4 separate regions of the Homo sapiens genome follow, and regions 1, 3 and 4 are each linked to region 2. Evidence: fine-mapped expression QTL. A gene starts in region 2. Each other region holds a variant in brackets. All regions are shown on one strand. Distances are from middle to middle.

Region 1 (7,035 bases), 35 kb before region 2:
CATCATTGAACCAATAAGACACAGTAACATAATTCTAGTAACCTACTTCTCAATGAACACACATCTGAGAAAAAAACCGCCAGTATTTTATTCTCATGGAAAAACAGAACAAACCCACAAGTTGGAGTCACGGAGATAAAATACAGATGAAATGGAAAACGGTCTGTTGTCATGAACTCTCACTTTCAAATACCATTTTATATGGAAGTTACTTTACTGCGGGGCAAACAGAAGGCCATGCTGGAGTCTCTTACTTTTGGAAAATGGAGAATCAAAAATTTGCTAATCAACAAACAAAAAAGGAGGGAAACTCCTTGGTAAAGCTCTACAAACATAATTATACATTTATATTTTACCAATAAAAGATAGCTAGGGTAGAAAAAACAGATGGTTAGAAACTGGTGCCAAACCAAAGTGAAAGCTTTGGTGCCTTCTCTAAACTCCTATCCTGTTTCTTTAGAAAACACCAGTTTTCTAAAGAAAGATTACTCTGAATTCACCAGGGTTCTATCACCCCAATTCATCCCTACCTTTCCACCCCCAAGACACGAAAGGGCCATGTAGTTTTTTGTCCGGCACCACTTGGGAAGGGGCTGGGCTCAGGGGCTGGGAAGAGCTACCTGCTGCCCTAGCTTGAAAGGGAGGAGGTGGCCACACCATTCTTTGTATTTTTATCACGCACATAAAAGAACAAAAATCATTTGGCAGTTTTAAGTTTAATAGGTGCAAACCTTTACTTCAGGAATTAAACCCCTTATGATAAATAAAAGAATTAAATCAGATTTTTTTTTAATACAGATAGGGGTCTCGCTATGTTGCCCAGGCTGGTCTTGAACTCTTGGCCTCAAGCGATCTTCCCACCTTGGCCTCCCAAAGTGCCAGGATTACAGGCCTGAGCCACCACACCTAGCCCTAAATCAGAATTTTTTAAAAAAAATTTACTTAAAAGAAAAATGGAAAAATAAAACTTTCAACACTAGACTGCCGCCCTGTTAAGAATGTCTAATATGCAATCAAAGTATTGGAAAGCAGGCATTTTTACCAAAGAGCAATGTCACTATAACTTATGAACAGAAAGTTGTGAAATATAAGGGTACTCATGGAAACCAGTGAAGAGAGGAAACACCGGCAATTGTTCAACACGGAACAGTGAGCAGGTACTTTGGGAGTAAGGCTCTGAGAGATGGAAGACGCTGGTCTCAGATCTGAGGTGATGTCTGGCCAATCGTCTTGGCTCCAAGGGGGAAGAATGCAACTGGCAGGATTCGAGGAGAGGGCACTTCTGCAGCCCCCAAGCAAGTCTCTAGTTTTCGCCCCAAAGTGGATGCACTTTCTAACTTCAGCAAGGCCTCCTCAGGAGGATTTGCTTTCCGATGTGTAGTAGCGGTACAGGAAACCTAAGAGAACAGCGCCTATGATGGGTAAAATCCAATATGCCCAGCAACTAGGAATAGGGGGAGAAAGCAATAAAGTTGTTAATATTTTAAGCCAAATGTTCACTATCTTTCAGCTTTCACATGTTTTTATATAGGCAAGGAGTTTTTATTTACTTTGGGAAATTTAACTGCTTTTATCACAAAGTAGTTGGGGAAAAATATTTGAATTGGAGTGACAATATTACAAAGTAATTTTTTAAAAGGTTAAAAACAACCAATAGTATGATATCAAATAAGATGTCTTTAAATGCCTCTATATGTGTTTCTACAAAGTCATATAGTGGTTATTTCTGAGTTAGGGATTATGGATACTCTCACATTTTCTTCATTGTGCTTTTGCTTTTCACGTATTCTACAATTAAACATTTTTAAACAGGAAAAAACACCATTATGTATGTGACATTTCATATATGTATAAAAACATATCCATCCCAATATAAATTTGGAAGTAATCATATCTAATATAACTACCAGAAATATCCTATCTGCTTCATATGTATTTTAAAGATTTAATCCTTATGAAATAGGATAACCTACGAAATAGGGTTATTATTCTCATCTCATACAAGGGAAATATAAGCTTTGCACCCCAAATCCCAAAGCTAGAAAGGCAGCTGGACAGTCTGATTCCAAACCCATCCTCTTAATCCCTAGTTAAGTTTGGACACTAATAAGGATACACATACACACAAAGCATATACAGTTCTAACAGGGTGAAGCAAATGGCAGCTTCAAAAGTACTGCAAGAGACCTTCCTTAGGAGCTTCAGAACAGTCATCATTCTCCTTAACATAATAATTCTTTAATAGAACTTATTAGCACACTAGTTTTAAGGTATAATTCTTCCATGATCCAAATGACCCGGCTGCCCCTCTACTTAAGACATATGAGTCTTGGTATTAAAAGGTTTTGAAGTCAATAAAACGAGCTGAAGTTCATAAGAAAAATGATTCTCTTTGCCTAAACATGCCTAGCACTCTGTATGCTTACGTACAGCAGAAAGCTACTCTGGACTAGTTTAGAATATCAGCCAGGTAGCTTTGTTTACAAAACCAAGCAATATGGCACGTATAACAGCAATATGCACATGGGAACTCTGAAGTAATCTCCTGATAAGAGTAATGAATTCAGACTCCTTGAAGAGTAACCGCAAGAGACTGAAGAATCCAAAAGTAGGATCCTTGAGAAAACATTGAAGGAGAAAATTTCTTTCTTTCTTTCTTTTTTTTTTTTTTGAGACGGAGTCTCATTGTCACCCAGGCCGGAGTGCGGTGGCGCGATCTTGGCTCACTGCAAGCTCCACCTCTGGGGTTCACGCCATTCTTCTGTCTCAGCCCGTCCTCGTGATCCACCCACCTCGGCCTCCCAGTTTGCTGAGACTACAGGC[A/G]TGAGCCACCACGCCGGCCAGAAAATTTCTTTAGTACAAAAGACTGAGAATGGTTGACACCAATCCTCACATAATCTTTCCTAATACTTAACTGCCACTGAGGAGAGAACCAGAGGAAATACATTTATACTGCATCACAGGAGATTCAGGTTCAACAATAACTTCCTACCATAAGACAGATTTTTCTTCTTGGAGATCCATCTAGACTACTACATGTTTGTGATTCCTTTATTTTTATTGTTTTGTAGTATTCCATTGTATGAATATACCACAATTTATTAGGGTTGTCTCTGATGTTTGAATATCTCGAATAACACTGCTATGAACATTCTTGCATATATTTCTGGGTGTACCTGGGCACACATTTCTATCAAGTATATCATTAGAAATGGAATTGCTGGGTCAAAAGTTAAGTCATCCTATCAAATTTACTAGATAATGCCAAACTGTTTTCCAAAGTGATTATACTCATTTACATTACCCTAGGAGTGCTTAAGAGTCGGTGATAAACTTTCCAACCAACTCTTATTTGCAAAATTTTTAATTTTTACCAATCTGGTTAGGTATGAAATATACCTATGATTTTAATTCACATATCACTAATGATGAATGAGATTAAACCTCATTTCCATATGTTTACATTTGTGTTTCCTTTTCTGTAAAGTGCTTAAATCTTTTTCTCATATTCTACTGAGGTTTTAAAAAACTGATTTGTAGGAATTCTTTATATCTTCTACCTAATAATTCTTTATCAGTTTTATGCTTTGCTTAAGTCTAAGTTTTATAGCATAAGCATAAGGTTTGGTTTTTTTTTTTGAGATGGAGTTTCGTTCTCGTTGCCCAGGCTGGAGTGCAATGGAGCGATCTTGGCTCACTGCAACCTCCACCTCCCAAGGTTCAAGCGATTCTCCTGCCTTGGCCTCCCAAAGCTCGCACCACCATGCCCAGCTAATTTTGTATTTTTAGCAGAGATGGGGTTTCGCCATGTTGTCCAGGCTGGTCTCGAACTCCTGACCTCATGATCCACCCGCCTCAGCCTCCCAAAGTGCTGGGATTACAAGCGTGAGCCACCGCGCCCGGCCCTGCATAAGCATAAGTTTTGTTTAAAATCTGCAATTTTGTGGCTTGTATTTTCAAAATTTTTATGCAGCATTTCGCTGATCCTAAGCCCTTAATATTAAGGAAACTAAATTTACTAATAGTTTGTAATTTTTTATACTGTGTCCGTTACCTCAAGTAATAGATCTGATACTTTATGGGAAAAAAAGACATATTTTCTTTCTCTGAAATACTTCGAGATGTCCAAAAAATAGAATGGCTAGCTCTATATAATCTCCACAAAGATACTGTACAAGCCAAGGATTCCACAGTCATTTTAGATAGAGGCACTTAAGGTAAGGCAATTTATAACTTTCAGAGCTAATACTAATGAATTACTAATATTAATGCCAAGGAATATATTGTAAATAAACCTGAGAAAACCCAAATTCCTAAATATGACCGTAGTATTTTTTTCTCCTGCAATATGTAATAATAGCACTTACCTTACAGAGTGGTTGTGAGAAGTAAATGCGATTAAGTTTTAAGTAGAATCATGTAGCTGGGTTGAACTTCGGGACTAAAGGCTGACCCAATAGTAGCTACCTGTCCATGCATCCTGGCCTCTTACTGAGTGTGATTCCAATTTATGTCACAATAAGATTAAAAAATGACTCAAGGCATGAAACTTTTAGATTATTCAAAATGGCTGAAACTGTAAAAGTTAATTTTTCTAATGTCAAGGAACAACTGAATTTGCAATGATTTGGGCCAAAAAAGAATTAGTTGTCAAACTGCACTCATAAGTTATGTTACATACATATACTTATGGAAGAGTCTCTTGCCAGACATTACCTTGAACGTATGGAAAGCTGTTAAGGAGATACTAACCTTTTGCATGTATCATTTTTTGAAGGGTCCTGAAATAAAAAAAAAAAAAAATTCAAAAATAACAAACAAAAAGAAAGAAGATTAACATAGCACATGTACATTTTCTTGATCAAGCTATGTCAACCCTGTAACTGATACCAGAACTTCATCTTTCATGCATTTTGGTGTTTACAAATATATAAGCAATGGATAGACTGGGAATTTTATTTCTGATAACATACTGGCACTTCACTAGGTTCCTTCCTAGTGAAGAATCACTAATGAAAGCATAGAAATGACCTAAACTTTTTTAGATGTTAAAAAATGTTAATGATACAAACTATATTGAAATGGACTACTCTGTGGTCATGATGATGTACCTGGTTCAGCTGGGCTTGCCACTGGCAATAGCTAACATCACACTTTCTAAAAACATTTTTTAAAGTCCAAAAAGCTCTTCTAACATGTAGATCAACTGTGAAATGCTCTAGATCATACAGATGATTGCTTGTAGATCACAAAAATATACTGGTTCACTCCTTGAAATCATAATAATTATGACAGGAGACCTTAGAATTGATTTCACAATGAAAAGAGAAAAAATGGAGTCAAGGGAAAGAAAATGATAAAATAATCTTAAAAAACAAATCTTGGCAATAAAAAGTACTGAAGTATTGATATATGCTACAAACTTCACAGCATTATCCTAAGTGAAAGAAAGCAGACACAAAAGACTACATATTATATAAATCTGTTTACATAAAATGTTCACAACAGGACAATCAATAGAGTTAGAAGTAGATTAGTAGTGGTTGCCTAGGGCTGGTGTGAGGAGGACGAGTTGTGGGGAAATGGAAAACGACTGCTAATGAATATGGGGTTTCTTCTTGGAGTGAGGAAATTGTTCTAAAATAGACTGCACAGTTCTGTAAATACACTAAAAACCATTGATTTGTACATTTTAAATAGGTAAACTGTATGGTATGTGAATTGTATCACGATAAAGCTGTTATTACAATTTTTTTACTCAATTCAAGTATCAAACGAGTTATTGATTCCATTAACCAGCTGTATAGTACAAAAGGCCTGCTAACTTACTGCCAGAGGACAATAACCCTTTAGCATAGGTTGCTGCTGCCCAAAATACCATCTTTGCAAAATGTAGAAGTATATCAGGGTATGAACATGGAATATTAGCTCTGCTTAACCACCGTTTTCAATAATCTCCAAGAATTTCCAGAAACCAATCACATTGGCCCCAATATACTTTAGAGCAGTCCATGAAATGAGTTTTAATTTCATATATCCAAAACACTGTCATGCAAATGAATACATGCCCCAAACCTGAAAGAAATTAGTCTGTAGGCAAGAAAAATGGCAAACGAAAGGTTTTAAAGAAACCATATTAACATACTTCTATACTTCTTTAAGACTTTAATGATTATCATTATCTGGGACATTTCAACTAGTCTAGTAAGGATCCGATTAATTAAAATGAGTTACAAGTCAATCTTTGAAAAATACAACAAATGTTACTATCTACAGATTCGGAAGGTAGGAGTGGTAGCGATGGTAGTATGTGCATCAAGTTAATTTATAATGCTGCCTTTTAAAATAAATATTCCACTACAGTAACCGAGAAATAATTGAATTCCATCAAGAAAATGTTCATGGTCTTTTATGCTTTAGCTACATAAATACCAATGATTTATAGACAAAAAATGTAGTTACTATTTTTAAAAGGGATAATTTGAAAGGCTTATATGAGAGCATCACAGCATAATATATGTATTATGATGTTTAATCTATAATTAGAGTAAAAATCATATACTTCATATAAATGGATTCTCTAAATTTCAAAGCTTTTAGCCTCTTTTACAATCAAAAGCCCTGGATCTCTGCTAAGTAGGGTGAGCCTTAGAAAAAGGTAATAAGCAACTGAAGAAGAAAGAGAACAAAGACAGCCAAAACCGTACTATGCTGAAATGTAAAAATTTCTAAACAATAAATAACTTAAAACATATGGTGTTCTTTGAACTAAGTACTGCAAAATGTGCCTGTTTTAAGATCAATCCATCCCTGGGGACGCAAAAAAAAGACCAACCTGTCTAACCCATTAAAGGAAAGAGAAGAGAAAGAGGCATACACTCCCTTTAGGATACTGATAGCCAAGTAGATGCAAACCATAGTGACCCCACTTTTAATCAAATACATAATAATCAAAGAGATGTTGAAGGCACAGCTCTTAGCAGCCAGGACTCTCAGCCAAATTTGGAAATAAACCAAATCGCTTGTTTTTAAACT
Region 2 (8,258 bases):
TCTGTAAAATGGACCAATCAGCAGGATGTGGGCGGGGACAAATAAGGGAATAAAAGCTGGCCACCCCAGCCAGCAGCATCAACCTGCTCTGGTCCCTTTCCACACTGTGGAAACTTTGTTCTTTCACTCTTCACAATAAATCTTGCTGCTACTCACTCTTTGGGTCTGTGCCACCTTTAAGAGCTATAACACTCACCGCGAAGGTCTATGGCTTCATTCTTCAAGTCAGAGAGACCAAAAACCCACCGGAAGGAACCAACTCCAGACACACTCTTCCTTCAGTCTTTCACAACAATGTAGTCAGAACGATCCTATTACGCCATTAAGTCACATCATGTCACTCTTCTGCTCCAATGATTTCCCATCTCAGAATAAAAGCCAAAGTCCTTCCTAAAACCTGTGAAGTTGTACATGATTTGTCCTCCCCTGATCATTCTGATCTCATGTGCAACTATTCAACCACTGTGGCCTCCCTGACTGTTCCTCAAACATACCAGACATCCTCCCATCTCAAGGCCTTTGAACTTGTTTCCTCTGCCAGGAATGCTCTATGCTCTTCCTACAGATACCCTCATGGCTAGCTCCTTTACTTTGCTCCTGGCCTTTACTTAGTCATCTTCATAAAGTTATCTCGGCACCATCGCTAAAATTTCAAACCCTCCTCCTCACACCACATAAATATTCCACAGTCCTCTTCCCTGTATTATTTTTCTTTTTTTTTTCATTTGTGACGGAGTCTCACTCTATCACCAGACTGGAGTTCAGTGCCACAATCTTGGATCGCTGCAACCTCCAACTTCTGGGTTCAAGTGATTCTCCTGCCTCAGCCTCCCAAGTAGATGAGAGTACAGGCACATGCCACCATGCCCAGCTAATTTTTGTATTTTTAGTAGAGATGGGGTTTCACCATGTTGGCCAGGATGGTCTCAATCCCGACCTCATGATCCATCCGCCTCGGCCTCCCAAAGTGCTGGGATTACAGGCCTAAGCCACCGTGTCCAGCCCCCTGTATTATTTTTCTTCTTAGCACTTACCACTACCTAATGTAGTATATATTTTAGTTATTTACTCTGCTTATCGTCTGCCTCCTGTGCCATGTAATCTCCATGAGGGCATAGCTGTTTATTCACTACTAAATCCCCAGCACCTAGAACAGTGTCTAGAACATAGTAAAGGCTTAATAAATATTTGAATAAGTGAATGAATGAATAGGCTTGGAATGAACAAGAAAACAGAATAAATAAGAATAGCTAATTAGGCTGAGCACAGTGGCTCACACCTGTAATCTCAGCACTTTGGGAGGCCCAGGCAGGAGGATCCCTTGAGCCCAGGAGTTCCAGACCACACTGGGCAATAGTGGGACCCCAATTCTTTTTTTTTTTTTTTTTGAGACAGAGTCTGACTGTCGCCCAGGCTGGAGTGCAACGGCACCATCTTGGCTCACTGCAACCTCCACCTCCCGGGTTCAAGCGATTCTCCTGCCTCAGCCTCCTGAGTAGCTGGGATTACGGGTGTGTGCCACCACGCCCAGCTAATTTTTTTGTATTTTTAGTAGAGACGAGGTTTCACCATTTTGGTCAGGCTGGTCTGGAACTCCTTACCTCATGATCTGCCCACCTTCGCCTCGCAAAGTGCTGGGATTACAGGTATGAGCCCACACCCAGCCAGTGGGACCCCAATTCTACAAAAAATTTTAAAAATTAGCCAGGCGTCGTGGTGCACACCTTTTCCCAGCTATTCGGGAGGTTGAAATAGAAGGATCACTTGACCCCAGGAGACTGAGGCTGCAGTGAGCTGCACTCCAGCCTGGGTGAAAGTAAGACCTTGTCTCAAAAAACAAAACAAAAAAAACAAAACTGCAGGTAAAGAGCTGCAGCTCAAGCTCCAAGAGAAACCTTGGCACATTAGTGATGTCTCTGGCTATATCAGCATGTGGTTGAAACAGGTTAGTTACTTCTGGAATCTTCACAGAGGAAAAAAAAAAAGAAAGAAACAGGTTAGCAACTATTACTTGAGACTGAATTAATGCTCTCTGTAAGGGCTGAGTGTTCCCTCCAAGCTCACCATCTATTCTGAATCAATCAAGAAAAAAAATGGAGGGAAATAAAACCACAAATGAAAAACATGATTTTTTTTTTCTTTTTTTGAGATGGAGTCTCACTCTGTCACCCAGGCTGGAGTGCAGCAGCACCATCTCACCTCACTGCAGCCTCCACCTCCCAGGTTTAAGCGATTCTCCTACCTTAGCCTCCCAAGTAGCTGAGATCACAGGTGCCACCAAGCCTGGCTTATTTTTGTATTTTTAGTAGAGACGAGGTTTCGCCGTGTTGGCCAGACTGGTCTCGAACTCCTGAACTCAGGTGATCTGCCCGCCTGTGCCTCCAAAAGTGCTGGGATTGCAGGCATGAGTCACTGCGCCCAGCCAAAAAACTTGATTTTCTACCCATTATGAACCATGCTTTAGCATGAAACTTACTATGAAGCAAATACCAGAAGTCATAGCTAAGGCTAGAATTTTGAAGTAATGCTATGCAGACAAGAGAAATCAAGGGATCTGTCAAATCTGCTACTAATTGATTGTATGACCAGGATCTTTCTGAACCTGTTACTTGTACCTCTGTTAAAAAAAAAAAATCACTACTATCCAAGTCACCCTCCACTAGCTTTTTTTTTTTTTTTTTTGGAGTCTCGCTCTGTCGCCCAGGCTGGAGTGCAGTGGTGCAATCATGGCTCACTGCAATCTCCGCCTCCCAGGTTCAAGTGATTCTCCTGCCTCAGCCTCCTGAGTAGCTGGGATTACAGGCGCCCACCACCAGGCCCAGCTAATTTTTGTATTTTTAGTAGAGTCGGGGTTTCACCATGTTGGTCAGGCTGGTCTGGAACTCTTGATCTCGTGATCCGCCCGCCTCAGCCTCCCAAAGTGCTGGGATTACAGGCGTGAGCCACCACACCTGGCCGGGAAAGTACTTTTTTTTTTTTTTTTGAGATGGAATCTCGCTGGGTCCCCCAGGCTGGACTGCAGTGGCGCAATCTAGGCTCACTGCAAGTGCCACCTCCCGGGTTCACGCCATTCTCCTGCCTCAGCCTCACGAGCAGCTGGGACTACAGGCGCCCACCATCACGCCTGGCTAATTTTTTGTATTTTTAGTAGAGATGGGGTTTCGCCGTGTTAGCCAGGACGGTCTCGATCTCCTGACGTCGTGATCCGCCCGTCTCGGCCTCTCAAAGTGCTGGGATTACAGGCGTGAGCCACCGCGCCCGACCGGAAAGCACTTTTAAAAGCATAAAATGCCATACACCATACAAATGCAAGAAGTTAGTAAATTCTGAGTTTGTTAAATTATTGTTCACTATTAAGATTTATTAAAAATAATGTTCTTTGGGGGAAACTTTTAAATTTTAAAAGTTTTTAGAATTAAAAGTCAGGATGCAGAGATTTCTCTTTTAGGCCCCAAATTAATCGAAAAAATATTTCACTAGTATATTTGCTTCAGAGAAATAGAAGTGAACTTTCACAAGTCATTAATCTATTGCTCAAAATAAAATGATCACACACAAACCGAAAATCAAAGCTTCAAACATACACACACCGAAAATCAAAGCTTCAAACCAATCTTTAGCGGCTGCATATCACTAGTTGCCTGGGGTTGGGAGAGAATGACTGCAAAGGGAAAGGAAGCTTTTTAGAATGATGGAAATGGTTTATGTCTTAACATGGATGAATACATTTTTCAAAACTCATCAAAATGTACATTTTAGATAGGCACAATTTACGTATGTACATTACACCTCAATAAAGTTTTAAATATTTAGAAGTCTATCCTGTTTCCTTAAAAAAAAAATTAGTTGCACCATGGTCTCAAAAATAATTTTTAAAATGAGATGTAATGCAACAGACTTGAAGATTAAATAAAACAGTCTTGAATATTTAAGAAAAATGACAAAACATGAGTCAAAAACAAAAAAAAAGGGTTGATTTATGAGTTTCTGGCCTCAAGGTCAACTCAGATTAGGGGGAAAAAAAAACAGTGGAGGCATAATCAAGATGGGGAAGCGTGTGGAGAGAAATCTCAGCTTCTACTCTAGAAGACGAAAACCAAAACCGGTATTACTTCAGAAGGCACACTGGAAAAGCACAGATGTGGGTGCACTTCAGACCTAGGTTCAACGGATCTAAGCTGCTAACTCTATGGCCCTGAGAGTCCTCAACCTGTGAGCCTCAGTTTCCCTTTCTGTAAAATAAAGATAATGATGGCTTAGAGTTTAGCTGAGCACACAGCAAATGCTCGACACATAAGTAATACATGATATTACATAAGGCACCAGAACTCGGAGCTGACTGGAAATGCATGCAAACTAAAGCCCTCCCCCAATCCCACCCCAGTTTCCCTCTGAGGGTCGTGATCCCTTTCTTACGCCTTATCGCCCCCAGCCAAGCCTCCCTTCCTTCCCACATACACTCCACACAGCCTTTTCACCCCTCGCCCCAGCAGCTTCAGAGGCCTCCCACCTCCCAGGCCCCACCTCGTTGAGGAAGCGGGTGACATCGTAGACTCGCCCATGGATCACAAGCCACAGTTCCTTCAAGGAGTTGCGCTTTGCCACCTCCTCCAACCGGTAATAGGTGACTGAGGTCTCGACTTCCTGCCCTTTCCCATCGCTGCCGCTAGCTTCCGCAGTCGCCATTGAACCGGACATACTGCCTCTCCACCGCTAACTGAGATTCCGCGACTACTTTCCTTGAGAGCCCGCGCTCAGCCTTCCTCGGCTTCCGTAACCAGGGCCCATAAGGCCTTGAGACGGTTCCTAGCAACAGCCAATCACACTTCCGAATAGTTCCTGGTTCGTTTTCTTTTCACCAATGAAGGGAGTGGCTCAGTTCGAAATCCCGCCCACTCCTCGCCCGATCCTCCAGATGAAAGTCTGGTTCGAGGTCCAACTAACCAATTAGGGTCGTTCAGCCCCCTCCAACCTCGCCAATCAGATACCGCGATTTTTGGACTGGCGCCCAAAAGAGGCGTGCTGACAGGTGTCACTTCAGGAGAGGTACCACTTCTCTCAGCCTGTGGGCCTTTAGGGTCTCCAGTGTTCTGCTTCCCTTCCCATCGCTGTGGCTTTCTCCTGAGTCTCAGAAAGTTCCTATCCCCTACACTACCGGCGCAGCCTGTATCCCAACCCTGATTTTACATCTTTGCTGCCTCCAGGTCGTGATCTGGCCAATCCCGTCTCTCCTCAATTTCCCCATCAGTAAAATGGGCTTGATAAAGCACTCTCTTACAGAGGGGTTTGCCTTTTTTTTTTTTTTTTTTTTTTTTGAGACAAGTTCTCGCTCTGTCTCCTAGGCCAGAGTGCAGTGGCACGATCTCGGCTTACTGCAAACTCCGCCTCCCAGGTTCAAGCGATTCTCCTACCTCAGCCTCTCGACTAGCTGGAACTACAGGCATGCGCCACCACGCCCGGCTAATTTTTGTATTTTTAGTAGAGAGTAGGTTTCACCATGTTGGCCAGGCTGGTCTCGAACTCCTGACCTCAGGTGATCCGCCTGCGTAGGCCTCCCAAAGTGCTGGGATTACAGGCGTGAGCCACCGCGCCTGGCCCGGTTTGCCTATTTTAATGAGAGTGCCTGTAAAGCGCTTGGCGCATAGTAATCGCTAAACATGGCAGTCGATTAGAAAGGCAATTGCTGTCCCGGACAGCAATTGGGGGTAGAATGTGGAGTATCCTATGTTTCTACCATCATTCAGAATCCGATTTTCAAACGAATTCTGTGATGATCAGGATCAATCGGCACTATTTTAGTCTCTACGTGATCTAAAATAGAATTGAACTCAACTGCTCTCCGCTAGAGGTCCCAGCACTTTGGAATTCCAAGTTTGGTTAAGGTACAGTGTTGTGCGCCACTTTTTAACTGCCATTACAACTGACAGATTGCTCTTCCTATGATGTCGTCGTTTTCATCCTGTCACTCTCGCAGTCTACCATTCAGGGCTCTCCACAATCCATTCGCAACCTCTTTCACTAACGTATAATATTTTCCACCATTCCCTTTATAAGCCTGTTGCACCCGCCCCGACTCTGAAACCTGCTGGTTTAAAACCACATCCGTGGTCATCCCAGGTCCACCAAGTTAATTTTAGATCACTTAGAGACTAAAATAGTGCAGATTGATCCTGATCATCACAGAATTCATTTGAAAATCGGATTCTGAATGGTGGTAGAAACATGGGATACTCCACATTCTACCCTCAATTGCTGTCCCAAGGACTCCTCTTCCTTTCAATGCCTACCGGCTTTTCAAGTTCCTCTTCAGTTTCTTCTATTTTCAAACTTCTCCTACCGTTTTGAGCTCCAGTGCTTCCATCCCTTTGTAGTACCTAAGAAAGCATATTACTATTTTGGGAAGCCTGCTACGTCTGTAAATTTTAACTTTACGTATTTTACCTCCCTAGTTAGACTGACACTATGAGAGCAATCTCACAAGATTCTTAGGATCCTCCACAAACTCTAGATTCAAATATTTACATTTATTCCAGACATTTACTATTTACTGTTACAAGTCTTATGATAGGCATTGGGAGTAGAGAGATAACATAAGAAACAAAATCTCTGAAAGAAATAAAAACATTTACAGGCTGAATGTGGTGGCTCAAGCCCCGTAATTCCAGCACTTTGGGAGGCCGAGGTGGACAGATCACTTGAGCCCAGGAGTTCAAGACCAGGCTGGGCAACATAGTGAGGCTCTTGTCTCTTCAAAAAATACAAAAATTATCTACGCATGGTGGCACACAACTGTAATCCCAGATATTTGAGAGGCTGAGATCTGGGGATGGCTTGAGCCTGGGAAGTCGAGGCTGCAGTGATGTATGATCGCACCACTGTGCTCCAGCCTGGATGACAGAGCGAAACCCTGTTTCAAAAAAATAAAAATAAATAAATAAAAATAAAAAATAAAAAAATTACAAATTCTAGCACTTAAGTGATATATACCTGTAACATTATATTTGAAAATGTTTTTAGAATTTCAAATAAGTAAGTTACAAGAATAATACAATGAATGACCATATACTTTTAGCTTAGGTTTACCAACTGTTAATATTTTTCAATATTTGATTTTTTCCATATTATTTTGATCATTGTTGTTAATAATGCTGAACTATTTCAGATATCACCACCCTTTACAGCCAAATAATTCTACATGTATCTTCTAAAAATAAGAACATATTGTCACGTAACTGCAGTATGAATTTCAAATTCAGAGAATTTAACATTCACACAAAATTATTATCTAACATACTCTCCATATTATTTTCCATTATTGCATTCATGTCCTTTGTGAAATTTTAGTGTGCCTGTATGACCCAGGATCCAGTTCAGGATCATGTATTGCACTTAGCTAAGTCTCTTGAGTCCCCTTTAATCTAGAACATTTCCTTAACTTTGCTTTTGCTTTCATGACATTGACATTTTTAAATAGTATAGCCTCAAATTGAATTTTACACTGAAAAATTATTGTGACCTAAATGTTTTGGTTATAAATTTATATTTACAATTGATAGCACATGTTAGCCAGAAAGTCTGGCTTGGAATACCTGTCCCTGCCACTCACAAACTTGGTGACCTTGGGCAGGTTTCTTAGCCTCTTTTTTTCCATGTGGATACCCACTTGTTCCTGCACCATTTGATGAAAACACAATTCCCCCTTGAATTGTTTTCCTGTATCTGTCGAAAATTGATTGATCATATAAGTGTGGTTCTCCTTCTGAAATTTCTACTCTGTTCCGATGACTTATTTGTTTATCCTTGTGCCAATTCCACAGTCTTGATTATTGTAAGGCACTAAATCAGGTAATATAAGTCTTATAGCTTTGCTCTTAACTTTTGAAAATTATTTTTGCTATTCTAGATCCTTTGTATTTCCACATACATTTTTTTTTTTCACTCTCATCACCCAGACTGGATGGAGTGCAATGGCACAATCTCAGCTCACTGCAACCTACACCTCCCGGGTTCAGAGTAGCTGGGATTACAGGCCCCCACCACCACACTTGGCTAATTTTCATATTTTTAGTAGAGAGGGGGTTTCACCATGTTGGCCAGGCTGGTCTCAAACTCCGGACCTCAGGTGATCCGCCCACCTCGGCCTCCCAAAGTGCTGGGATTACAGGCATGAGCCACCATGCCCGGCCCCACACACAATTTAAAATCAGCTTGTTGACCAAGTGATCAAATTAAAACATCTCCATAATAAATCATGTTGA
Region 3 (8,258 bases), 21 kb after region 2:
ACTTGGGAGGCTGAAGCAGGAGGATTGCTTGAACCCGGGAGGTGGAGGTTACAGTGAGCCGAGATGGCTCCACTTTACTCCAGCCTGGGTGACAGACTCAGATGCTGTCTCAAAAAATATATAAATAAATAAATAAATAAATAAATAAATAAATAAATAACACACTTCCTCCCTACTCAGGCTCTAAATCAATTGAGGGGGGAAAAAAGTCAGAAGATGGATTATCTTCTGATGAAGGCTATAGGCTGTAGAATGTGGCTGAGTGTGTCCTTGTATCCTAATAAGACAGACTGTCCCATCAGTCACAAGCAGCGGTGGACCGGAGCACCCTCCCATGTGGAGGGAGAGAATTTGTGCTCCCTTCTTGATCCTCAGATACCAGGAAGAGGAAGACACGGCAACTCATGCCCAGTTTCTCCTGGGGCTGGGAATATGCTAATGCTCTCCTTTCCCTATGTGCAGGAGTAAGGGCTGAAGAGGAGGCTGGAGCGTTATAGTAGTTGATGGCCCTTCACACCAAAGGAAATATCTGGAGTAGGAGGAAGCATTTTCTTCTCCAAAAATTCTTTTTTTTTTTTTTTTTTTTTTTTTAAGAAAACAGCCTTGCTTTGTCACCCAGGCTGGAGTGCAGTGCAGTGGTGCAGTCTCAGCTTACTGTAACCTCCGCCTCCCATGTTCAAGCAATTCTCCTGCCTCAACCTTCCGAGTAGCTGGGATCACAGGCGCCCGCCACCATGCTCGGCTAATTTTTGTATTTTTAGAAGAGCCAGGGTTTCACCATGTTGGCCAGGCTGGTCGCGAACTCCTGACCTCAAATGATCCACCCGCCTCGGCCTCCCAAAGTGCTGGGATTACAGGCATGAGCCACCGTGCCTGGCCCCAAAAGTCTTACTATTTCTTGGATTATACAATAACTTTGAGGATGTGAAGCAAGCTATGAACCACCATCCAAGGAAAATGCACGTAGGTCTTGTCATGGACTTTTGTATCCCTTTCCCTGTCTTCTGGTTTCTGTAGCTCCAATTTTTCTTTTAGGAACTGTTCCTCTTCCATTCTGTGTGAAGTAGTGGTGCTGCCAATCAGTATGCTCCGCCTTCCCTTGGTGACAAGGGTTGGGCATGTGATCCACTCTGTCCAATCAGAGAAGCCTGTTCTCCTAGCCCTATTGTTTCAGGAATAGGCATGTGATTTAAAGCAGCCAATCAGGGAAAGACAACTCAGGGAGGCGTGACATACTTTCCTTAAGAATACTGACCAGTTTGGGCAGGGTGGCTCATGCCTGTAATCCCAGCACTTTGGGAGTCCCAGGCGGGCAGATCACGAGACCAGGAGTTTGAGACCAGCCTGGCCAACATGGTGAAACCTCATCTCTACTAAAAATACAAAGTTAGCCGGGTGTGGTGGCACACACCTGTAGCCCTAACTCGGGAGGCTGAGGCAGGAAAATTGGTTGTACCCGGGAGGCGGAGGTTACAGTGAGCAGAGATCATGCCACTGCACTCCAGCCTGGGCAATCAAGAGAGGCTTCATCTCAAAAAAAAAAAAACAAAAAAAAAAACAGGGCTGGGCACAGTGGCTCAAGCCTGTAATCCCAGCACTTTGGGAGGCCGAGGCAGGTGGATCACCTGAGTTCGGGAGTTCGAGACCAGCCTGACCAAAGTGGAGAAACCCCATCTCTACTAAAAATATAAAATTAGCTGGGCGTGGTGGCGCATGCCTGTAATCCCAGCTACTCAGGAGGCTGAGACAGGAGAATCACTTGAACCCGGGAGGTGGAGGTTGCCGTGAGCCGAGATCACACCATTGCACTCCAGCCTGGGCAACAAGAGCAAAAACTTTGTCTCAAAAAAAAAAAAAAAAACTAACCTGGAGAAAAAGTAAAGGTTAGACTCTCTGTAGATGTTTTTTTTTCTGCCAAGTAGAAAGAATCAGTCTGAAGAATGGAGCCCAACAAAGCAGAAATGTGTCTAATTAGTGAACACTTGAATCTAGTCATCAATGAAATCTGGTCTTCTGGTTACTTGAGCCACTAAATTCACCTTTGCTTTTGCCCAAGCTGCTGGAGGTAGGCTCCTGTTCTTTGGTATGTGCACACACAGAACTCGGCCTCCACTTTCCAGAAGTGCTAACTATGAGCCCAGACCTGCCTTGTATGTTAAGAGCCCCCTCTGTGAGCGGTGCCCATTATGAATTTGAAAAATGATCATCTATTCTAAAACATTCAAACACATCTTGCTGCTGCATTTGGGGCAGCAATACTTGCTTCTTCATGTTGGCACCGTTTCTGCCTGTCAGCAACTTGGAAACCATACTGAAAATACAGGCCGGAGGGCATGTAGCTTAAGAGAAAACAAGTCTCATGGGTGTGTTACAATGTAGGAAATGCTAGCGAAAGTGTCTACCAGAGGATAGAGAGGTTAAAGTTCGGCCACCCTCTTTTTCTTTATATATAATGGGTGAGAGTTGGAGGTGGGAAAGGGAGAAAGAGAATCCCACCCAAACCAAAGAGGATGTTTGGACAAGTTAATCTGCGGAAAGCTCTAGAAATTTGATGCAGGGTGATGAAAAAGCTGTGGCATGATAACATCTAGTGTTTGATTAAGCCTTTCCTCTAGGCTGGATGTCATACTTAGCACTTTACATACATTGTAGCAATTCTAGTGGGTACTATTGTTATTCCCATCTTACAGATGATGAAACTAACACTGAGAGGAGTTAGAAACTTGCCCAAGGGTCCTGCTGGTAGAGCCAGGATTTGACATCAGGGCATTCTGAACCCTATATTTGCTAACCACTATGCCCTTCCTTTCTAGCTAAAGACCTGGGTTTGAATCTAGCTCTGTTACTTGCTGGTTGAGTGACCTTGAGCAAATCAACCTCTTTGAGCCTGTTGCCTCATGTAGAAAATTCAGGGAGTAGGCCGGGCGTGGTGGCTCACACCTGTAATCCCAGCACTTGGGAGGCCGAGGCAGGCAGATCACAGGGTCAAGAGATCGAGACCATCCTGGCTAACCAACATGGTGAAACCCCATCTCTACTAAAAATACAAAAATTAGGTGGGCGCAGTGGTGCATGCCTGTAGTCCCAGCTACTCAGGAGGCTGAGGCAGGAGAATCACTTGAACCCGGGAGGCAGAGGTTGCAGTGAGCCAAGATCGAGCCACTGCACTCCAGCCCAGGCAACAGAGCAAGACTCTGTCTCAAAAAAAAAAAAAAAAAAGAAGAAGACAGAAAGAAAGAAGGAAGGAAGGAAGGAAGGGAAAATTCAGGGATTATACTAAATAATTTGTTTTCTCTCTTTCAACTCTAACATTTCAAAAATTATAATATCCCCAATCCCCCAAACTAGGATTTGTATTCCTGGCTTGAACTTTTTTCGCTCAAGACCCTATAGATTGGTTTTCCCATGGATTTCGGATCAAAAGCTTCCTTTGAATTATGTATTCCTTTGAAACGGATTCAAATGCAGGGGGATCTGAAAAGACTTCATCCTTGCTGAGTGAATCAGCATCCCGTGAACACAGGTGACAAGTTCTGACCCATCCCTTCACTGTCTGATAAGCCCAAAGGTCATGCTCTGGACTCAAACCTACTCTTCCTTCTTCCTGCCCATTTTGTGGGTTTTCTGATAAGGTGCCCTAAGGCAGCTGTAACACTGTTTTCTCTCCCTACAAACACAGTCCCCAGGGCGTGCACTCTGCCTGCAAACTTCCCAGCTGCTTCCAGCTCTCCCTCTGCCCACAGCCCTTTATTGCTGCATTCCAACAAATTAGCCATGTGACAGATTATTTTTAACTTCAATAGAGCAGCTCCCTCTCTTTTAATATATCATGCTTGGCCCACATTCCCTCGGTGAAAAGGGCACCATCGGCTACTTCTGAGAACTTTTAATTACTCCAATTGTTTGCAAAACTCTCTTAGAAGCTTGGGAAAAAAATATTGCAAGCTACAGTTCTGATTACAAGAAGAAAAGAAAATACATTTCTTTCTCCGTTCCTCTCCAGTCCCCTTACTCTCCAGTTTTCTTATTTAGTGGAGACCTGGGAATTTTCCAGGTCTTCTCAAATCCCCTCTACCCCCCTGCCACCCATTATCTAAGAGCAGGTTTTTTTAAGTATAAGTCCATCTCGAAAAAAGCTAAAGAAAAAAAGTAATAAAGTGCAAATCTAATTGGGAGGAAGGGAGGGCAGTTTCCTGAGTAACAGAGACCCCCACCCCGATCCCACACAGAACCCTAGCAGGTGAAGGATGGCAGCTCCCAAAGCACTGAATGCCCAGCCATCCTAGGTCTTGGAAGTCTCCAAGAGGGTCCTGGAGGTTGAGCTTGACACTGAGGTTGAACCTTCTATCTTGAAGTCAACTGCACGTAAACAATGAGCATCTCAGTAACCACCGCATGGGCCAAAGGCCCTTCTCCAAGTTTTCTGAACTTTCTAAATCCCAGATACTTCTCTAATTTCTTTTTCTTTCTTTCTTTTTTTTCTTTTCTTTTTTTTTTTTTTTTTTTTT[TG/G]AGATAGAGATGGAGTTTCGCTTTTTCGCCCAGGCTGGAGTGCAATGGCGCCATCTCAGCTCACTGCAACCTCTGCCTCCCGGGTTCAATCGATTCTCCTGCCTCAGCCTCCCGAGTAGCTGTGATTACAGGCGCCCACCATCACGCTCAGCTAATTTTTGTATTTTTAATAGAGACGAGGTTTCACTATGTTGGCCAGGCTGGTCTTGAACTCCTGACATCAGGTGATCCACCCACCTCGGCCCACAGGCATGAGCCACTGCACCTGGCCCATATAGTGTTCTATTGCTAATGTAAAATAAAAAAATAAAAGGAGGGGAGAAAATATAAATGTGTTATTTTATTTTTAAAATTTTTTTGGAGACAGAGTCTCATCCTGTCATCCAAGCTGGAGTGCACTGGCACGATCTCAACTCACTGCACTTTCCACCTCCCGGGTTCAAGAGATTCTCATGCTTCAGCCTCCCAAGTAGCTGGGACTACAGGCATGCGCCACCACACCTGGGTAATTTTTTGTATTTTAGTAGAGACGGAGTTTCACTACATTGGCCAGGCTGGTCTTGAACTCCTGAGCTCAGGCAATCTACCCGCCTCTGCCTCCCAAAGTGCTAGCATTATAGGCGTGAGCCACCATGCTGGGCCTGTAAAGACAAGCCTGGCCAACATGATGAAACCCTGTCTCTACTAAAAATATTTAAAACATGTTATTTTAAACATGTACAAAATATCTATCTAGGGGAAGGTATTCTAGGAACTGGTAGAACTGGGGAAGGGAACTGGGCAACTGGACAACATAGATGGGGAAACAAATTTCACTTTATACTCTTTGTATCCTCAGAATTTTTAAATTATGTGAATGCATAACCTAATCCAGTATAATTACATTTTTTTTAAGTTGAAAGGAATATTTGGCAGTATTTCCAAGCACCTGGGCCCTCGAGATATGAGAAACGCCCACCATTTATGAATTGGGGCAGGAGGAAAGGGCCAGATCCCAGCTGTCACTCACTGTAGTCATGAACCGAAGCCATAGCATCACTATAGTAAGATAAAAGAGGTACCAAGAGGACAGGAGGAAACAAAATCAGTCTTGAGTCACATATGGGCATCATGGGTATTTATAAAAGGCTTAGACGGTTCCTTCCTAAATTTGAATTTATGTCAAGAGATAATCATTTCAGGAAGTGTGAGTTCCTCTCTTCAAACTGTTTTGGACAATCCCATTCTGATATGAGCTGCATAGAGCCAAGCTCATTTATAGGGAACATCTGTGTGGGAGGAAGGGGGGGAGTGGAAGAGCATAGAAAAGAGACCTCCTGAAGCTGAACTTGGACACCTCTTGTGTCTTTTCCTGGTTTCCTTTGAGTTGTACATTTGCTTGGTTGTGTGACAAGGAAGGTCTATGAAACTTTTATGGTCCATTATGTGGGTTTATGTATATAACATGAAAAAGTGACACGTGGAAGAGGAGTTTCACTGAAATCTGCACTCTTTTTGTGAATGTCTGTGTTCCAGAAGGTTCCTAGAGTTGTTGGATGATGGCTCTGATTACTGACTCCTTTTGACCACTAGTCAGGCAAAAAAAAAAAAAAAAAATTTGGCTTTGAATAACAAATTTATAATTATTCATCTTATTTCACAGTAAGCTACCCCTTTAAAAGTCTACCATTATTTTTTTTGTATTTTTATTAGCATTTAATTACTAGTGAATATATGGTAATACATTCTTCCCTTTTGAAAAAAATTAGAGCATTGCAGACAAAGTTTTGGTTCTCTTTAATCACTCCCCACAACGCCAGTTCCTTTCTCCCTTCCTCTAAAAAAATCACTTCTAGGAGTTTTGAGGCTATCCTCACTGACTTTTCAGTATACTTTTGCATACATATAAATGTACTCATAGAAAATAAACATGTAGTATTTTTACATGCATGTTTTTAAGAAAACAAATTATATTCTATATATTATTCTGCAGTTTGATTCTTTTCACTCAATAATATAATATTGAACACTTTATACGATTATTATAGATAGTCATTCTTTTTTTTTTTTTTTTTTTTTTGAGACAGGGTCTCCCTCTGTCACTCAGGCTGGAGTGCAGTGGCATGGTGTTGGCTCACTGCAACCTCCACCTCCAGGGCACAAGTGACCCTCCTGCCTCAGCCTCCCAAGCAGCTGGTACCACAGTCACATGCCACCATGCCCTGCTAATTTTTGTATTTTTTGCAGAGACAGGGTTTTGTCATGTTCCTCAAACTGGTCTCAAACTCCTGGGCTCAAGCAATCTGCCTGCCTTGGCCTCCCAAAGTGGTGAGGTTATAGGTGTGAGCCACTGTGCCCGGCCCTTTTTAACTTTTATACAATATTCCATTGTGCTTGGCTATTTCTCTTTTGATAGGCATTTAGATTAATTCCAACCTTTGTCTACTATAGACAATGCTTCAGTAAACTTTTTTTTAATTATACTTTAAGTTTTAGGGTACATGTGCACAACGTGCAGGTTTGTTACATATGTATACATGTGCCATGTTGGTGTGCTGCACCCATTAAGTCGTCATTTAACATTAGGTATATCTCCTAATGCTATCCCCCTCCCCCCACCCCACAACAGGTCCTGGTGTGTAATGTTCCCCTTCCTGTGTCCACGTGTTCTCATTGTTCAATTCCCACCTATGAGTGAGAACATGCGGTGTTTGGTTTTTCAGTAAACATTCTTGTACAGTTCTCATTATACACACATACAAGTACCTTATAGTCAATAAACATTCGGTCGTGCAAATAAAAAGTCAATATGCAATCTTAGAATGAGGTTTAGGTACAATGAAACTCTAAATTTACCGTTTAAAAATTGTCATCATCGTGGGCATTTTGCACCTCTGTAGATTATTATGGTGTGGCCCTGAGACTGGGGCTTGTGGAAGAACTGACTGAAGATGTTTCCTTGGCCAGGGAGAGAGAGAGAGAGCTGTAAAACACCCTTGTGAAAGGTAGGGCTGGGATACTCAAGACTGTGCTATCTAACACAGTAGCCACTAGCCACAAGTGGCTATTTAATTTTAAACTTAAGTGTGTTAAAGTTAAATCAAATTAAAAATTCAGTTCCTCAGTTATAGAAGCCACATTTTAAGTGCTCAAAAGCCACATATAATCAGTGGCTACCATATTGAGTGCGAATACAGAACATGTCCATCATTAAAGAAAGTTCTGGCCAGGCGCAGTGGCTTACGCCTGTAACCCCAACACTTTGGGAGGCTGAGACAGGTGGATCACCTGAGGTCAGGAGTTCAAGACCAGCCTGGCCAACATGGTGAAACCCTGTCACTACTAAAAATACAAAAATCAGCCGAGCGTGTTGGCAGGCACCTGTAATCCCAGCTACTCAGGAGGCTGAGGCTGGAGAATCGCTTGAACCTGGGTGGTGGAGGTTGCAGTGAGCCGATATTGTGAATTCAAGTCAGGCTCAGTAGCTCACGTCTGTAACCCCAGAACTTTGGGAGGCCATTTGGAAGATTGAGGCAGGAAGATCACTTGAGCCCAGGAGTTCAAGTCTGCATTGAGCTATGATGGCACCACTGCACTCCAGCTTGGGTGACAGAGTGAGACTGTCTCAAAAAGAAAAAGAAAAAGCAAGTTCTGTGGGACAGTACTACTCCAGAAGTTATTTTATATAGTCCTATCTAGTAGCCAATTTAAAATTTCCTTTCCTGAAATGTAATTACTTCCATTATTACTAAACCTTTGATGAAGTATTT
Region 4 (8,258 bases), 26 kb before region 2:
TGAACCCGGGAGGCAGAGGTTGCAGTGAGCCGAGATCACACCGTTGCACTCCAGCCTGGTGACAAGAGTGAGATTTCGTCCCCCCACCAAAAAAAAAAAAAAAAAAAGAGAACAACAAAGAAATGTCTCAACTGGCAACCACATAGAAAGGATGTGGGGGTCAATGGGTGTGGATTTCACGATGAACTTTGTTTATGAGAAAACATGAGAGAAGAGCACACACTTAAGGAATGGAGTGTACTTTGTCATCAGGACATAAATGTAGGAAAGAATGAACCAGAATCATGATTATGACGCATTACGACAGACAGGGAAGCCGGGTGCAGTGGCTCATGCCTATAATCCCAGCACTTGGGGAGGCCGAGACAGGCGGATCATGAGGTCAGGAGCTCGAGACCATCCTGGCTAACAGGGTGAAACCCCATCTCTACTAAAACTACAAAAAAATTAGCTGGGTGTGGTGGCACACACCTGTAGTCCCAGCTACTTGAGAGGCTGAGGCAGGAGAATCACTTGAACCCAAGAGGCGGAGGTTGCAGTGAACCAAGATCGTGCCACTGCACTCCAGCCTGGGCAACAGAGTGACACTCTGTCTCAAAAACAAAACAAAACAAAACAAAAACCCCAAAAAACAGGGCATTATACCTTCAGCCTATACAGCTTACATTTAGGCTTTCAAAAGCTTAAAAGGCAAATATAAGGTATATAAAGACTTTATGTTTTAATTCCTACATTGCTATTCCAAGAGGATTCTAAGTATTTAAAATTGGAAAAAGTAGATTTTAAGCCACAGGACACCTTTGGCAAATGTAATGGGTATTTAGGTGGTCTGGTAGAGACTGTGTAGCTTTGAATTTGGAACACTTTGGTATCCCTGTGGCCAGTAACTTATGAAAAACAAGTTGGGAACTTCTGGCTTCAAATTCTAAACTGGAAAAGATTTCTCCCCCTTAATACCATGGACCTTATAGCATGAGCTAACACTATATGAATTTTAATATTAGGTTCATTTTACCACCTAAAATGTTTTGAGTATTGAAGGTATATGATTTCAGCATTTTACAGTCCCAACTATGACACAGTCATGTGGTATGGATCTTGAGGACAGCCTTCTCATGAAGCTCCAATGTACTAAAATATTCAAGTCAGTAAGAACCATTTCTTTCTGGATGTGAATATAATTTAACAATTACTGCCTTGCAAAGTATATAATCCTAGAGTCAAACCGTTATATAAAAAAATTTCCCTGTAGATATGGCAAAATTCAAAGATGAAAAACAGCCCCTAAAACAAATTGCTATAAACTCTCTTAAGAACTCATTGTGATAAAATATATAACACCTCACTCAAGAAAAAAAATTAACACATTCACAGGATGATCTCTATCAGGACTTAAGAAGTGAAAAATTTGTTATAACATTGGAGGGCTGATTTGAAAAGAATGTTTCCTTACCCTTCTGAACCCTGTTTTGCAAAACTATACATCATTTCTAAGTAGAGCTTTACCAATAGAAGACATTAGTCCTTGAGAACCCTCAGCAAAGGGTATTTTGTCTTTCAGGAGTAATTTTGTCATCACATTCTATGCTTTCTTTCAAAAGATTATGTTACAAAATATAAGTGTATATGAAAATGGGAAATAAGCCAGGTGCAGTAGCTGGTGGCTCATGCCTGTAATCCCAGCACTTTGAGAGGCCAAGGCAGGTGGATCACCTGAGGTCAGGAGTTCGAGACCAGCCTGGCCAACATGGTGAAACCCCATCTCTACTAAAAATACAAAAATTAGCCAGGCGTGGTGGTAGGCGCCTGTAATCCCAGCTACTCAGAAGGCTGAGGCAGGAGGAGAATGGCTTGAACCCAGGAGGCGGAGGTTGCAGAGCCGAGATCGCGCCACTGCACTCCAACCTGGGTGACAGAGCAACACTCCGTTCCCCCGCCCAAAAACAAAACAAAACAAAAAAACACACAAGAAATCAGGAAATAACCAGACAAAATTCTCTGGTAAATAGCAATCACTGCTTGTCTAAAGGGCATCAGCATCCCATTCCAAACTTTAATAAATTAGGTAGTAGGTATGGTAGGGATATTAAATAATTCTTAAAAATAAAATTTTTAATTTGATGTAATCAACTAACTATATTTCATAATTATAAACAATATATTCCTTTTAGTTTCTCTCATAAAAGAAGTAAACTGTATGTTACATAATACATTATATAACAGAAAACTGTATGTATAATAAAAGTCAGTAGCATCTGGGAGAAAAAATGTAACTTTAAATGCAATTAATAGACTGCTTCTAACATGTAAAATTTACTAGATTTCATAAGTCAAGCTTCTTAAGTTAAAAATGAAGTTAAAAAAACACGTTAAGCCTCTATGGAGACAATTTTATTTGTTTTAAAAAACAGATCAAATCCTTCGAAAGCAAATGTCATCACATCAACACTTTCATCTATGGAATACTAAATATCTACTTAAAAAATGAGAAAGATCTTTTTTTTTTTTTTGAGACAGAGTCTCGCTCTCTCACCAGGCTGGAGTGCATTGGCACAATCTCGGCTCATTGCAACCTCCGCCTCCCGGGTTCAAGCGATTCTCCTGCCTCAGCCTCCCGAGTAGCTGCGACGACAGGTGTGCACCACCACGCCCAGCTAATTTTTGTATTTTTAGCAGAGACAGGGTTTTACCATGTTGGCCAAGATGGTCTTGACCTCGTGATCCACCCAGCTGGGCCTCCCAAAGTGCTCGGATTACAAGCGTGAGCCACCGCCCCCAGCCCAAAAGATGTTAATAAACTGACAAGAAATAATGATGAATAAAAAAAAAATTTTTTTTGAGACAGGGTCTCGTTCTGTCACCCAGACTAGAGTGCACTGGCACAATCTTGGCTCACTGCAACCTGTGCCTCCCAGGTTCAAGCCATTCTACCGCCTCATCCTCCCATGTAGCTGGGACACCACCATTCCCAGCTAATTTTTGTATTTTTAGTAGAAACGGGGTTTCGCCATGTTGGCCGGGCTGGTCTCGAACTCCTGGCCTCGTGTGATCCGTCCACCTCAGCCTCCCAAAGTGCTGGGACTACAGTCGTGAGCCACAGTGTGCAGCCAACAAATAAAATTTTTAAGTAAAGAGAAGCAAGGTGAAGAATAGTATGTATGAGGCTTTTTACCTTTTTTTTTTTTTTTTTTTTTGAGGCGGAGTCTCGCTCTGTCGCCCAGGCTGGAGTGCAGTGGCGCGATCTCAGCTCACTGCAAGCTCCACCTCCCGGGTTCACGCCATTCTCCTGCCTCAGCCTCCCGAGTACCTGGGACTACTCAAATTTTGGGCCTCCCCAAATGCTGGGATTACAGGCTTGAGCCACCGCGCCCGGCCAGCTTTTTACTTTTTTAAAGGAAATGATGGTTGGTTTGTCTGTCTATCCATCCATCCATCCTTATGAATGCATGGAATCTTTGGAAGAGTAAACAACAACAAAAAAATGATGGCTGGTTACCTCCAGGGAAGGGGAACTAAAAGTCTCAGAGCTGGATATACGAGGGAATTTTTTTTTTTTTTTTTTTTTGAGACGGCGTCTCGCTTTGTCGCCCAGGCTGGAGTGCAGTGGCGCGATCTCTGCTCACTGCAAGCTCCACCTCCTAGGTTCACGCCATTCTCCTGCCCCGAGTAGCTGGGACTACAGTTGCCCGCCGCCACGGCCGGCTAATTTTTTGTATTTTTAGTAGAGACGGGGTTTCACCATGTTAGCCAGGATGGGCTCTATCTCCTGACCTCGTGATCCGCCCGCCTCAGCCTCCCAAAATGCTGGGATTACAGGCGTGAGTCACCGCCCCCGGCCAACTTTTTTTATAGTATACTGTTTTGAACTATTTAAATTTTTTTTTTACCATGTACATTTTATAATACTCACTCAAAAAAAATGTAATGGGGAACAGGTCAAATTACTAGACCTATTTGACTACAAGATTTAACTAGTAAAGCAGTTGAACTATTATCTAGATAATATCTGTTGAAGAAATGAATGAAATGGTGCCCACTTTTTTAGTCAGGTTACGATTTGTATGCACTTTATCTCTTGAACTGATGGCAGATTAAGTGATAAAACAGCTAACCAAGAAGTAAATACATCATCAAAGAGAGAATTCATAGACCACGAATATTTATAGGTTACTTGCTAAAGAGCAGGCAAGCAGGCAGGCAAACTGGCACAGAGAGCACTGAGTCTGTTTCTAAGGTGAGTTTCCGTAACCAAAAACAAACCAGAAAAATGTTAAGTCAAATATAAGTAGGAGATTGACGGCTCTCAGCATGAGGGTTAATCCAGCAAGGAAGAGATTCACAAAGACAAATGGTTTTTAATTCTAGTTAGTTATTTTTGATTGAAGCGGGTTAAAAAAAAATCTGTTGCTACATCTTTAAGTTTTTAAGTCTTTACGTTTTTAGTATATTAATTCTGGGCCTTCAACTCAGGTACTATCCATCTAACAATAAAACAATGGTGACCATTAATTATTTACCTGTGTTATAAAAGTAATATGAAAGGTGTTTTCTAAAAGAATTAGGGAATGGTTACTGACTTACACTTTGGAATAGCAACATTTTGAGTGTTTCTTTCTTGGCGGGCAGTAGGGATGGTGCAGTTCAGACAGGGAGTAGAAGAAGGAGAAGAAGGAAAATGGAAATGAAAACTCTCTCCCATAGGCTGAAGATACTTTTTAATTTGACTTTTAAAAATCACTTCTTCATAAAGATTCAGAAACCATGAACCAAGAGAAAGGAAGGTAACCAATGAAATGAACTCCATTTCCATTTCTTAATGGTGAATGTTTAAACCAGATAAAGTATGGAGAAGAGAGATACCTACATCCTAGACACCAAGT[C/G]CCTATTTAAACCTCTGTAAGAAATAAATCTGAGAGATCAAGAATTTCTTCCTGGAACTGAAGTCAGGTTGGAATATAGCTCTATAAAAACCTATGTAGGTGGTCTTGAAAATGTTCCAAAAGGCCTTTCTTGCCTGATCTGCCTGAAGTAGAGCAGAGTGACTAGAAACACAATAGCCAGACTCTCTACTTAATGAAGACATGTCCCTTGAGTACAGTGACATGAGGAAAACAGGATTGAAAACACTGCCTTTAGTCACTTTTTAACCCAGATAGGGGCTAAACTACATTTGGAGACTTCTAAATTATTATAGAACTTGGTGAGCTTAAATGCTTTCTTTTTCTATCTTTCTTACAAAAAAATCTAAGGCTCAATAGTTTTTTGGGTTTTTTTTTTTTTTTTTTTTTGAGATGGGGTCATGCTGTGTTACCCAGATGGAAGTGCAATGGTGTTACCATGGCTCACTGCAGCCTCAAACTCCCGGGCTCAAGCTATCCTCCAGCCTCAGCCTCCCCAGTAGTTGGGACTGCAGGCACACATTATAATGCTCAGCTAATTTTATGATTTTTAAAAAATAGAGACAGGGTCTCACCATGTTGCCCAGGCTGGTCTCCAAGTGCTGGGCTCAAGCCATCCTCCCATCTCAGCCTCCCAAAGTGTAGGGATTACAGGCGTGAGCCACTGCACCTGGATGGCTCAATAGTTTTAATTCAGCTGAGAAATCTCTAATCCTTTGGCCTATAGAAGGCAGACAATGCTTACCACAGAAGAGAATTAAATTTTCCTAAGTTTTCAAATGAAAAGATGGGCATATCATTCAGCAAAAAGTTTGGGCTTAGCTACCTACTTATCACCTAGATTACTTAAATTGCAAATTCCTAAACCCTATCTCCAGAGATTCCAAAGCAGTAGGAGTAGAAGCCCAAGAAATAAACATTTCCTATATATATTCATGTACATACCAAGGGATTCCAACTGAGGTGATACAAGAACAGAATTTGGGGAACATTGTTCTACATTCCTAAGAATGGTCCTAACTGTACTACCAAGAAAGAAAAACAGCAACAAGAAGCAATCTGTAGACTTCTAGACATTGTAATTGCAAACATATTTTTTCTATTGTTTTAATATAAAAGATGCTCTCATAGTTGCTGTGCAGAAATGTGTTATGGCTCCTATATCCTTTGAATCAGATGTTGACCTCTGAAAGTGGTATTTTCTGGACATGTTCAATATACAAATCAAGGCCACGCTTCGTTCAAATTTTACCATAATAACACAAGTTATTAAGAGTAAGCAACAACAAAAAATGATGGCTGGTTACCTCCAGGGAAGGGGAACTAAGACACTGAGAGCTTGAGACAGGAAGAAACTTTTTACAGAATACTGTTTTGAACTATTTAATTTTTTTTTTTTAAGGATTCAAGAATGGATAGTACATGTGTTAGGAGGAGAGGACAAACAACCAACAGTTGTTACAAAGTGTTTTAAGAACCATTTCATTCCCCTTTCAGAAACAATTCAATAGTTCAGAGTAGCAGTCTAGCAACATGGAAGAGTTAATTTACACAAACACTCTGGATTGCAGGGCAACAGATGGCAGACACTGTTAAGCAAGCAATCTCTTGAGTTAATAGAATTCTTGTGTCTAGGCCAACTTTAATTGCTGTGTCAAACCTATTCAGTAATTTCGGCTCAATGAGGAATGGGAAGCAAGCAGCAAGGAGGAGGAAAATGGAAGGGAGGCAGCATCACTTTCCTATGTTCTAGGTGGCACCTAAACTGCTGTCCCTTTAAATTAGAGTGCTGTGTACCAGCTATCTGAAGGACAGAAATTAAGGAAAATTGTTAGGGAATAAGGGAAATGAACCACCTAGCATGTGGGAGGCAGAAAATGGTTCCATATTTTCTTCCTGGTATGCAATGTAGTACACATTAAAGTTTTCAAACACTCAAATACTTAGTCTTTTGTTTTCGCTGTATTACTAAGTAACCGGGAAGGGTGTGGGCCTGTTTGAGCCTACAGGAAAAAAGAATTAAATTTGGAAAATAAGTACAGAAAGGCCTCTGTATTACAGATAAAGAAGATAACCTATAAGAAACAAAACAACTTTGCAATTATTTTTTTCCAACACAGAAACAATTATTATCACTTGTCCTACATAATGTAAAAGTAAGATATTTTTCCACAACTGAACCCATAAACTAATTTCTTTCAAAACCACACAGGGCATAGCTTTGGAGTTTCAGTTAAAAAAAAAAAGCGTATAAAGGCATTAGCAAAATGTTTCCTACTGTTCAAGACTCAGCTATTCTTTTATTCCTGAGATGATACTGAGTCCAAATTCCAGAAAAATAGGATTTTTGCTTGGGGAAAAAGTAAATACTTTGTAACTTCTCTTGTTAAGAAAAAATGTTTCAAAAAGCAGTCCTACTTGAGTAAACACAAATATAAACACAAGACAAACCGCTGACTTCTTACCTTGCTACCACTTTCAGGTTTAAGGTCACTCTGTCAAAAAAAGGAAAACAAATAATATTTTAAGACATAGCCAAATGAATTCTCACTATATGCTTGTTTCTAACTTTGGAACATGAGACTATATTCTGGTGATAGTGAATTCCCTGGGAGATTTGAGGATCCATAGAAAGATACCTCTACTCTGAGCATATCAGAGTCCCTTGTTAGAATGGTATATATGGATAGTTTTTAAAGTCCATAATTACTACCTTTAGCAAGGAGCTTGCAAAAACAAGCAAACCACTATTTTAGGTAAAGGTGTTATTAACTGCATTACAAAAATAAATCAACACATAAAAATAATCCAGAATCAGTTCCCTTAGCTTTTTAGAGATATTACATGTGCTACCTGGCAAAGAAGAAGCTATATCCTAGCACAGTAAGACTAGACAATTTTGGAGAAAATTTAGCCTGATGGCTAGATTGAATGAATTTCCATTTTAATAATTTTTTTTTTTTTTTTGAGACAGAGTCTCGCTCTTTCACCCAGGCTGGAGTGCAGTGGTGCAATCTTGGCATACTTCAACCTCTGCCTCCCAGGTTCAGGCAGTTCTCGTGCCTCAGCCTCCTGAGGAGCTGGAATTACAAGTGTGCGCCACCACACCCAGCTAATTTTTGTATTTTTTAGTAGAGGTGGGGTTTCACCATGTTGGCCAGGCTGGTCTCGAACTCCTGACCTCAAGTGATCCGCCTGCCTTGGCATCCCAAAGTACTGGGATGACAGGTGTGAGCCACCACGCCCAGCCAATAATTCATTTCTTCATCCTGTTCTGCAGCTGTTAAGTAGTTTTCTCTGCATAAGGGCTCCCATCTCTGATAGTTCTTACCGGATGGATATCACCAATGTAGTACTGCT

The links. PIP is the estimated chance that this variant, and not a neighbour inherited with it, causes the effect.
Region 1: its variant is the best candidate, but not a certain one, in a credible set for the expression of CYB5B in subcutaneous fat (TwinsUK, PIP 0.68).
Region 3: its variant is the best candidate, but not a certain one, in a credible set for the expression of CYB5B in neutrophils (Naranbhai 2015, PIP 0.84).
Region 4: its variant is the best candidate, but not a certain one, in a credible set for the expression of CYB5B in sun-exposed skin (GTEx, PIP 0.53).

The regions. Positions count from the first base shown.
Region 1 is chr16:69,456,839-69,463,873 of GRCh38, reverse strand. CYB5B (cytochrome b5 type B) reads right to left here. Exons shown (of 5, transcript NM_030579.3): 4 at 4,753-4,781; 5 at 1-1,444. The coding sequence ends at 1,354. Among named protein-coding and RNA genes, the nearest start is that of CYB5B, 36 kb to the right of the region's middle. The variant A/G (reference allele first, on the strand shown) is at 2,824.
Region 2 is chr16:69,421,124-69,429,381 of GRCh38, reverse strand. It overlaps CYB5B (cytochrome b5 type B), which reads right to left and starts at 4,763. Exons shown (of 5, transcript NM_030579.3): 1 at 4,525-4,763. The coding sequence starts at 4,698. RefSeq lists enhancers at 4,385-4,932, 4,933-5,480.
Region 3 is chr16:69,400,007-69,408,264 of GRCh38, reverse strand. No RefSeq gene overlaps it. Among named protein-coding and RNA genes, the nearest start is that of TERF2, 18 kb to the right of the region's middle. The variant TG/G (reference allele first, on the strand shown) is at 4,509.
Region 4 is chr16:69,447,250-69,455,507 of GRCh38, reverse strand. It overlaps CYB5B (cytochrome b5 type B), which reads right to left. Exons shown (of 5, transcript NM_030579.3): 2 at 8,230-8,258; 3 at 7,364-7,393. Among named protein-coding and RNA genes, the nearest start is that of CYB5B, 27 kb to the right of the region's middle. RefSeq lists a silencer at 315-532. The variant C/G (reference allele first, on the strand shown) is at 4,881.